Linked DNA regions of Homo sapiens: region 2 is linked to region 1. The links come from fine-mapping of genetic effects on gene expression. A gene starts in region 1. The other region holds a variant in brackets. All regions are shown on one strand. Distances are from middle to middle. Region 1 holds the start of LINC01409 (long intergenic non-protein coding RNA 1409). Region 2 holds the start of PLEKHN1 (pleckstrin homology domain containing N1).

What was found. PIP is the estimated chance that this variant, and not a neighbour inherited with it, causes the effect.
Region 2: its variant is the best candidate, but not a certain one, in a credible set for the expression of LINC01409 in subcutaneous fat (FUSION, PIP 0.64).

The regions. Positions count from the first base shown.
Region 1 is chr1:776,246-780,626 of GRCh38, forward strand. LINC01409 (long intergenic non-protein coding RNA 1409) reads left to right here and starts at 2,553. Exons shown (of 6, transcript NR_187359.1): 1 at 2,553-2,847. It overlaps LOC100288069 (a long non-coding RNA gene), which reads right to left and starts at 2,389. Exons shown (of 20, transcript NR_168328.1): 1 at 2,039-2,389. RefSeq lists an enhancer at 2,106-2,675.
Region 2 is chr1:963,296-967,676 of GRCh38, forward strand. It overlaps KLHL17 (kelch like family member 17), which reads left to right. Exons shown (of 12, transcript NM_198317.3): 8 at 42-209; 9 at 625-713; 10 at 812-885; 11 at 1,054-1,235; 12 at 1,668-2,424. The coding sequence ends at 1,896. It overlaps PLEKHN1 (pleckstrin homology domain containing N1), which reads left to right and starts at 3,187. Exons shown (of 16, transcript NM_032129.3): 1 at 3,187-3,319; 2 at 3,409-3,508. The coding sequence starts at 3,237. RefSeq lists silencers at 3,079-3,398, 3,669-3,828. The variant C/T (reference allele first, on the strand shown) is at 1,722.

The DNA.
Region 1 (4,381 bases):
GGCCTCCCAAAGTGCTGGGATTACAGGTGTGAGCCACCATGCCTAGCCAAGAAACCCTTATTTTAAAACAAGCCAGGCGCGGTGGCTCATGCCTATAATCCCAGCACTTTGGGAAGCCAAAGCGGGTGGATCACTTGACGTCAGTAGTTTGAGACCAGCCTGGGCAACATGTTGTAACCCCATCTCTACTAAAAATATATTTTAAAAATTAGCTGGGCATGGTGGTGGGCACCTGTAATCCCAGCTTCTCAGGAGGCTGAGGCAGGAGAACCACTTGAACCTGGGAGGTGGAGGTTGCAGTGAGCGGAGATCACGCCACTGCACTCTAGCCTGGGTGACAATAGAAAGACTCCATCTCAAAAACAAAACAAAACAAAACAAAACAAAAAACCACTAAAAAAAAGACTCCATTTCAAAAACAAAACTAAAACCAAAAACACAACACAAATGTAGTACACAAATGAAAATAATTACTGTGTTAAACACAGTTTCATAGAAAATAAAAGACCAATCAAATACAATAAGCTGCCTTTTTAGATGGGTATGTTATTCTTCTTTCACAGCTAAAGAAACAGGCTCAGAGAATGTTATTTGATTGGACCGTGTTGCATTTCTGGACAGTGCAGCTGAGATCAGACTTTGTGTGTAACTCCACTAGCCTACCAGGGTGCCTCTCATAAAGCTAAGAAATGTAAATTTGGCCTAATATACAAAGTTGCCAGGGCAGCACTGGGTCAATTCTACATACAGTACTTCTATGTTCATCAAGGGAAACCTTAAGGGAAAGTGAAAATGCTTCTAGAAGGCGACTGGACACCAGCGCCTTTGCTTGTTGCCTTTGGGCTCTTCTTCTAAGGCCAACAGTGACCTGAAATTATTGACTGGCTTTTCAATCAAGTGGACAAAATGGTACCAAGGTCGGCAACATCAGACAAATTTACTTGAGGGCCTTATCTATGCGCTTTGAAAGACAAAACTGCTTTTGTAAAGGACACTGTATTTCAGAAAAACATAATCATATTAACAAATAATAACACTGTAAAATGCTGATGTGTTGAATGCTACTTTAGAAAAACATGCTCAAATCTAGGGAAAAAATTTGATACAAAACTACGTATCAATTATCTAGCTAGCTATCTATCTAGAGACATGCTTTCATTCTATTGCTCAGGATGGGAAGCAGTGGGATTATCATAGCTCACTGCAGCCTTGAGCTCCTGGCCTCAAGTGATCCTCCTGCCTCAGTCTCCTAACTAGCTAGGGCCACAGGTGGACACAGTTATGCCTGGGTTTTTGTTTGTTTGTTTTGTAGAGACAGGGTGTCACTACATTGCCCAGGCTGGTGTCAAACTTTGGAGTCTCGCTGTGTCGCCCAGGCTGGGGTGCAGTGGTGTGATCTTGGCCCAGTGCAACCTCTGCCTCCCGGGTTCAAGTAATTCTCCTTTATCAGCCTCCCAGGTAGCTGGGACTACAGGCATGCGCCACCACGGCCAGCTAATTTTTGTATTTTTTGTAGAGACTGGGTTTCACCATGGCCAGGCTGGTCTCCAACTCCTGACCTCAGGTGATCCACCCGCCTCGGCCTCCCAAAGTGTTGGGATTACAGGTGTCAGCCACTGAGCCTGGCGGAGCACTTTATGTTATTAAGTAGCCTAACCCAGGTGGGTCGCTGTCCCTCACGCCTGTAATCCCGACAACTCTGATGGCCAAGGTGAGAAGATTGCTTCAACTCAGGAGTTCGAAACTGGCCCGGGCAACATAGCGAGGCACCCCCCGACCCCATCTCTAGAAAAAAATACAAAAATTAGGCCAGGTGTCCACCGCGCCCGGCTAATTTTTGTATCTTTTGTAGAGACGGGGTTTCGTCATGTTGCCCAGGCTGGTCTCGAACTCCTGAGCCCAAGCCATCCATCCTCCCGCCTCGGCCTCCCAAAGTGCTGGGATTACAGTAGGGCCCAGCCAGCCTCATGTTTTATTTAGCAGTCCCTCCCTGTTGCACACCTGGATAGTTTTTTAAATTTTTTTAGACAGGGTTTACCTCAATCTCGCAGGCTGGAATGCTGTGGTGGGATCATAGCTCACTGGAGCCTTGAACCTTTGGGTTCAAGTAGCTGGGGGGCTGAGGTAGGACTACAGAGATGGGGTTGCGCCATGTTGCTAGGCTGCTCTTGGCCTGAAGGGTCCTCCCGCCTCGGCCGCGCCAGACATAGTTTTCTATTTTTGACCAACATAAACACTGTGCTGGGTCTGAATTTTTCAGCTACCCTTCTTCAGCCGGCAACACACAGAACCTGGCGGGGAGGTCACTCTTACCAGTCCCCACTCTGATGAGAAAACTGCCCAGCTCCAGGCACCATGGCGCCCCAGTGATGTAGCCGAACACCCGCGCCTCTAACGTCGCCAACGGCCCACCTCTATGGTGTCGGCGAAGACCCGCCCTTGTGACGTCACGGAAGGCGCACCCTTGTGACGTCACAGGGGACTACCACTCACGCAGAGCCAATCAGAACTCGCGGTGGGGGCTGCTGGTTCTTCCAGGAGCGCGCATGAGCGGACGCTGCCTACTGGTGGCCGGGCGGGATGTAACCGGCTGCTGAGCTGGCAGTTCTGTGTCGCTAGGCTTCTGCCCGGCCGCCGCCGCACATAAGCCACGAGGAGGAGCTTTACGACTTCCCGGTCTTCGGCGCCGGGCGCAGCAAGGGCCAGACTCTGCGCTAGCAGGCGCTGCGCGCCAACCGGCCGGCACCTGTCGCAGAAGGTGCAACCGATCGCACTGTCGCGCAGAAGCTCCTCAATGGCCAGCGCCAGCTGCAGCCCCGGCCGCCCACTCGCCTCATCTGAGCCTGGGTACGTGCGCTCCACAACGCCTCCCCCAGCCAGGGCCCGGGGATCCCCGGGAGCGTCCCCGGCTACCTGGCGCCGCTCATCCTGGGTAGGGTCGGCCCCCTGAGGCTGCCCGGCATGAGGGAGTTGCACCCCTGAGCTTGACCTCTGACGGTCCTTTGTAATAGCATTAAGTCTTTGAAACTTGTAGCGGGGTAGAAGGGGCTAGGAAATGAAGAAAACATCTTTTTAAAAATATAAGCAGTCGGCTGGGCGAGGTGGCCCACACCTGTAATCCCAGCACTTTGGGAGGTCGAGGCGGGTGGATCACGAGGACAGGAGTTCAAGACCAGCCTGGCCAGCATGGTTTCACTGAAACCCCGTCTCTACTAAAAACACAAAAATTAGTCGGGCGTGGTGGCAGGTGCCTGTAATCCCAGCTACTCGGGAGGCTGAGGCAGAGAATTGTTTGAACCCGGGATGCGGAGGTTGCAGTGAGCGGAGATCGCGCCACTGCACTCCAGCCTGGGCAACAGACCAAGACTCCGTCTAAACAAACAAATATATGTGTGTATATATATGCGATCGAGCCCGGGAGGTTGAGATTACAGTGAGCTGAGATTATATAAGCGATCGAGCACTGGAGGTTGATGTTACAATGCGCTGAGATTGCGCCATTGCACTCCAGCCTGTGTAACAGAGGGAGACTCTGTCTCTAAAAAATTATATGCAAGTGAGAGCTTTTCTTCCAGCACTCATGCTCAGACTGAAGAAAGTAATTGGGCCAGGCCCGGTGGCTCACGCCTTTAATCCCAGCATTTTGGGAGGCGGAGGCGGAAGTGGGTGGATCACTTGAGCTCAGGAATTCCAGACTAGTTTGGGCAACATGGTGGAACCCTTTCTCTACAAAAATACAAAAAATTAGCTGGACATGGTGGCACGCGCTTGTAGTCTCCGCAACTTGCCGGGCTTAGGCGGGAGAATCGCTCAGCTGCAGCCTCGACCTCCAGGGGCAATCCATTTCAGCCTCCCAAAGTGCTGAGATTACAGGAATGAGCCATCGTGCCTGGCTTTACACTATATTTTAACACTTTTTTTGAAAATGGAAACTTTTACAGGCAATTCACTTCCTTCAAACTAATGATAAGGAAGTGATGCTGTTCTGTTCTGTTTTGTTTTTTGTTTTTGTGGGTTTTTTTTCTTTTTTGAGATGGGGTCTTGCCCAGGTTGGAGTGAGGTGGTGCAAACAAGGCTCACTGCAGCCTTGACCTTCGGGCTCAAGGAATCCTTCCCCGTCAGCCTCCCCGGTAGCTAGGACTACAGGTGCATGCTACCACGCTTGGCTAATTCTTTTTTTGAAATGGAGTCTCACTCTGTCTCCCAGGCTGGAGTGCAGTGGTGCAATCTCGGCTCACTGCAGGCTGGTCTCAACCTCTGACTTCGGATGGTCCACCCACTTCTGCATCCCAAAGTGCTGGGATTACAAGTGTGACCCACCGCGCCTGGCGATTTTGCTCATTTTAGATACTAGAACTTTTTAATTTAAAATTTTTTTTTC
Region 2 (4,381 bases), 190 kb after region 1:
CGCCAGGCCAGTCTTGACCTGCAGTGGCTTAATTCCGCTAGCTATGATGGGACCTCAGACCTGGCTACCGTGGAGTCCTACGACCCCGTGACTAACACGTGGCAGCCGGAGGTGTCCATGGGCACAAGGCGAAGCTGCCTGGGTGTGGCCGCCTTGCATGGACTCCTGTACTCGGCCGGCGGCTATGACGGGGCCTCCTGCCTGAACAGGTAGTTGGGGTTGGGGCCCCAGTGGCTTTGTACAGTCCATCTGCAAGAGGCAAGTTTGTGTCACCATCACAGGGGTCGTATCTGATGGGGTGTTAAAGGAGGTGATCCGCGAGGCCGTTTCACCCCAGGCCACTGCCACACTGGGCCTGAACTCTTGGCTTTGCTGCCCCAGTGCCCTTTCCTCTCTCGGGTCCTTACCCCCAGTCCAGAGGCTGGGCCCAGGTGGGTGTGCACCCAGGGTTGTTCAGGCAGCCAGGGTCCTGTGCCCACCAGCGGGCCCTGCCTGGTAGGACTTTGCGGTCTGAGTTTGACTCCTAGGGTAAGATTTCAGCCATTCCGCTGGGGAGGGCAGGTCCTGGGGCCGGGACGCCTTTCTGTCTCTGCTGAGCTGTGGCTGCGGTCCTGGTGCCCACAGTGCTGAACGCTACGACCCCCTGACCGGAACGTGGACGTCCGTCGCTGCCATGAGCACCCGGAGGCGCTATGTGCGAGTGGCCACGCTTGGTGGGTGATGGGGCCTGCCTGGGGGGCATCCCCACCTTCCCCCACCGTGGAGACCCCACTCCCAGCAGGAGTGCCACGGGTGTGTTGACTTCCGGCAGATGGGAACCTGTATGCTGTGGGCGGCTACGACAGCTCCTCACACCTGGCCACTGTGGAGAAGTATGAGCCCCAGGTGCATAGTGCACCCCTCCTGGCCACCCCCTCCCGTGCGCCGCGGGGCCCTCCTCCCTCTGTTTACCCACATCCCCCCCATTCCTGACACCCCACCCTGGAGTCGGGGCTGCGGCAGAGGAGGGATGCCAGTGGCGGGTCTGCGTCCAGCCCACGCCCTCGCCCCCAGGTGAACGTGTGGTCGCCCGTGGCGTCCATGCTGAGCCGACGCAGCTCAGCGGGCGTGGCCGTGCTGGAGGGTGCCCTGTACGTGGCAGGGGGCAACGACGGCACCAGCTGCCTCAACTCGGTAGAGAGATACAGTCCAAAGGCTGGAGCCTGGGAAAGCGTGGCGCCCATGAATATCCGCAGGTCCGCAGTGGGGCTGCGGGGAGGGGGGCGCGGGTCCGCAGTGGGGCTGTGGGAGGGGTCCGCGCGTCCGCAGTGGGGATGTGCTGCGGGGAGGGGGGCGCGGGTCCGCAGTGGGGATGTGCTGCCGGGAGGGGGGCGCGGGTCCGCAGTGGGGATGTGCTGCCGGGAGGGGGGCGCGGGTCCGCAGTGGGGATGTGCTGCCGGGAGGGGGGCGCGGGTCCGCAGTGGGGATGTGCTGCCGGGAGGGGGGCGCGGGTCCGCAGTGGGGATGTGCTGCCGGGAGGGGGGCGCGGGTCCGCAGTGGGGATGTGCTGTGAGAAGGGAGTTCTCCCAACCTCAGCGAGCATGTCCCGCCACCACCCCTTTTTGTGGTGCAGCCCCTCCCCCCGCATCCCTTCCTGCAGCCAGGGGCTCACCCCGCCTTCCCCCCAGGAGCACGCATGACCTGGTGGCCATGGACGGATGGTTGTACGCCGTGGGGGGTAA[C/T]GACGGTAGCTCCAGCCTCAACTCCATCGAGAAGTACAACCCGAGGACCAACAAGTGGGTGGCCGCATCCTGCATGTTCACCCGGCGCAGCAGTGTGGGTGTGGCGGTGCTGGAGCTGCTCAATTTCCCGCCGCCATCCTCCCCGACGCTGTCCGTGTCCTCCACCAGCCTCTGACCCACCTACCACCAGAGGCCTGCAGCCTCCCACATGCCTTAAGGGGACCGTGGCCCCCACCAGGGACGTCCTGCGCCATCCGTTCACGTCTCTGCATCCATTCCTTCATGTCTTTATTTAGTTGTTTATTTATTTAGTTATTTATCTTATTTATTGAGGGGTGAGGAGTGCCACGGCTGCCCGTTTACACCTTTAGCGTCTGGTCCTCCTGCGTGTCCTCCCCTCCACTGCCTGCATGGGGGGCGCGGGGAGTGACCAGGCGGGGGCCTCACCGCCCCAGGGCCGTTGCCTGCTCAGACCTTGCAGGCTGTGGAGCAAGAGGCCCTGGGTCTCTCCAAGCAGCTGCAGACCCCAGCTCGAATTTTGCACATGGCGGGGTCCCGGGAAGGGTGGGGAGCAGTTGTCCTTCCTGTCGTCGTCTGCCGTGTGCCATCTTTCCTGGATCTTGTAGTGGGTGCACACGCGTGCACTGGGACCCCACACAGCAATACGAGTCCAACTTAATAAACACATTTCTGGGGTTCCTCAGGCTGAGCATCTCTCTCTGGCATGTGGGGCAGCTGCGCAACTTTGGGTCCTGTCTGGGGTCCAGGGTGAGGGGTGTGGGGGGGTGCCCTGAGATGCGCAGGCATCTGGGAGCTGCAAGGCAGAGCTGTGCGTCCAGGGAGGGTGGGGGCCGTGCAGTTCCTGTGGACCAGCGTCCCAGTGTGGGTGGCGTTTGCCTGGGCTGGGTACTGAGGCCGAGGTCCCCGCCACATCGTGGGCTCTGGGGTTAGGGCTGGGGAGGACAGCCTTGCCCCCGAGTGCGCTGACTGTCTTGGCCGTCTAGGGGGCATGTGGCCTCCCTGAGTCCCCTTAAGCCTTGGGGACCCTGACTCGGGTCTGTGGCGAGGGGGCCCAGGCAGGAGGGGAGGCTGCGGTGGCTTTGGCCGCCGTCTCCTGTGCTGGAACTCCTGCCTCAGCCCTCCCTGCAGTCACCGGTGACTCGGGCCGGCCAGAGTTTAGATGGAAACAGGATGTGTGGGCACGTTGTCCCGGGGGGCCTGGAAGGTCGCCCCGGGTTCACCAAGCCGGAGCACAAGCAGGTGGGGTACCTCTGCACACTGGAGGCCTCGTCTGGGCCAGAGGGGTGCTTGCCCCAAGGCTGGCCTCTCGAGTGGAGGGCCCAGGGCAGAGACCTGCACGGCTCAGGTAGGGGCCAGGCCTCTTCCAGAAAGGCTCCACCCTCGCCCAGGCCCTGGTGCCGGGCGGGACGTCCCGGAGCCCCGCCTGCCCGCGGGAGGCGGGGGCAGGAGGCTGTGGACAGGGACCCAGACTTGCCGACCTGTACGACTCTGGCCATGGGGAACAGCCACTGTGTCCCTCAGGCCCCCAGGAGGCTCCGGGCCTCCTTCTCCAGAAAGCCCTCGCTGAAGGGAAACAGGTGAGCGGGGCGTGGGTGCGGCCACCTGGGCGCAGGGCTCCCCCACCCGCTCCGGGGCCAAGCCACGAGACCCCTTGCCTTGTCCCCAGAGAGGACAGCGCGCGGATGTCGGCCGGCCTGCCGGGCCCCGAGGCTGCTCGAAGCGGGGACGCCGCCGCCAACAAGCTCTTCCACTACATCCCGGGCACGGTGAGCGCGGCGTGCACGGTGGCTGTGGTCTGGGAGCGTGGCTCTGCCCGCGCGTGTGTGCCGTGTGTCCGTGCAGCTCAGGGTCTTCCCCTCGCCCCCGGGGCGTTCAGACCCCGGTAGGTGAGGAGCCGACGCTGACTGCCCCGCCCTGGGGAGCTCATCCGGCCGAAAGTCTGAGCGGAGAGCGAAACCGCGACGCAGGACTGAGTCAGTCGGGAGAGAGCTGGGCGGGGCGGGCCGCGGGCGGGGCCTCCCGGGACCTCCTCCCGCAGGGGACCAGCGCACGTGTCTCTGTCGCTGCAGTGGGGCTTGGGGTCGTGCCGGCAGGTAGTGTCACTTGAGAGTAAGGGGCCTCAGATGAGCAGCGAGCCAGCCGGTCACCTACACCGGCCTTTCTCCCTGGGTGTCCCGCAGGAAGTTGCCGCTGGGTATGGCCGCCTGGTCCACAGCAATCCCTCTGTGCACGCGCCGGCCTCCTCCCAGCTTGCCAAGGCCATGCAGCAAGGAGGTGTCTCCCAAGCACACACTAGGCCACCTCTCCGTCAAAGGAGCAGAAGACCACCCCCATGCCCACCCCCCCCCCAGCCCCTGTGGGACTAAGGGTCTTCACAGGGTAGATCCCAGCCCCTTTCAGATGTGTCTGGTGCTGGGATGAGGGAACAGGACCAGGAACCTGGGCTTCAGGGCAGACAGGAACCCCCACTGCACCCCCGTCAGGCAGCCTGGATGGGTGGGCTCCGCTATGTGCAGGCCCTAGGAGCATCTGCGGGAGAGGACGCCTGCCCTGCACTCCTGGGTCCAGCAGCTGGCATGGCCGTGCAGACCCCTTTGCCAACATGCCCCCGCCAGGCAGGAAGCTCGTGCCATACCCTC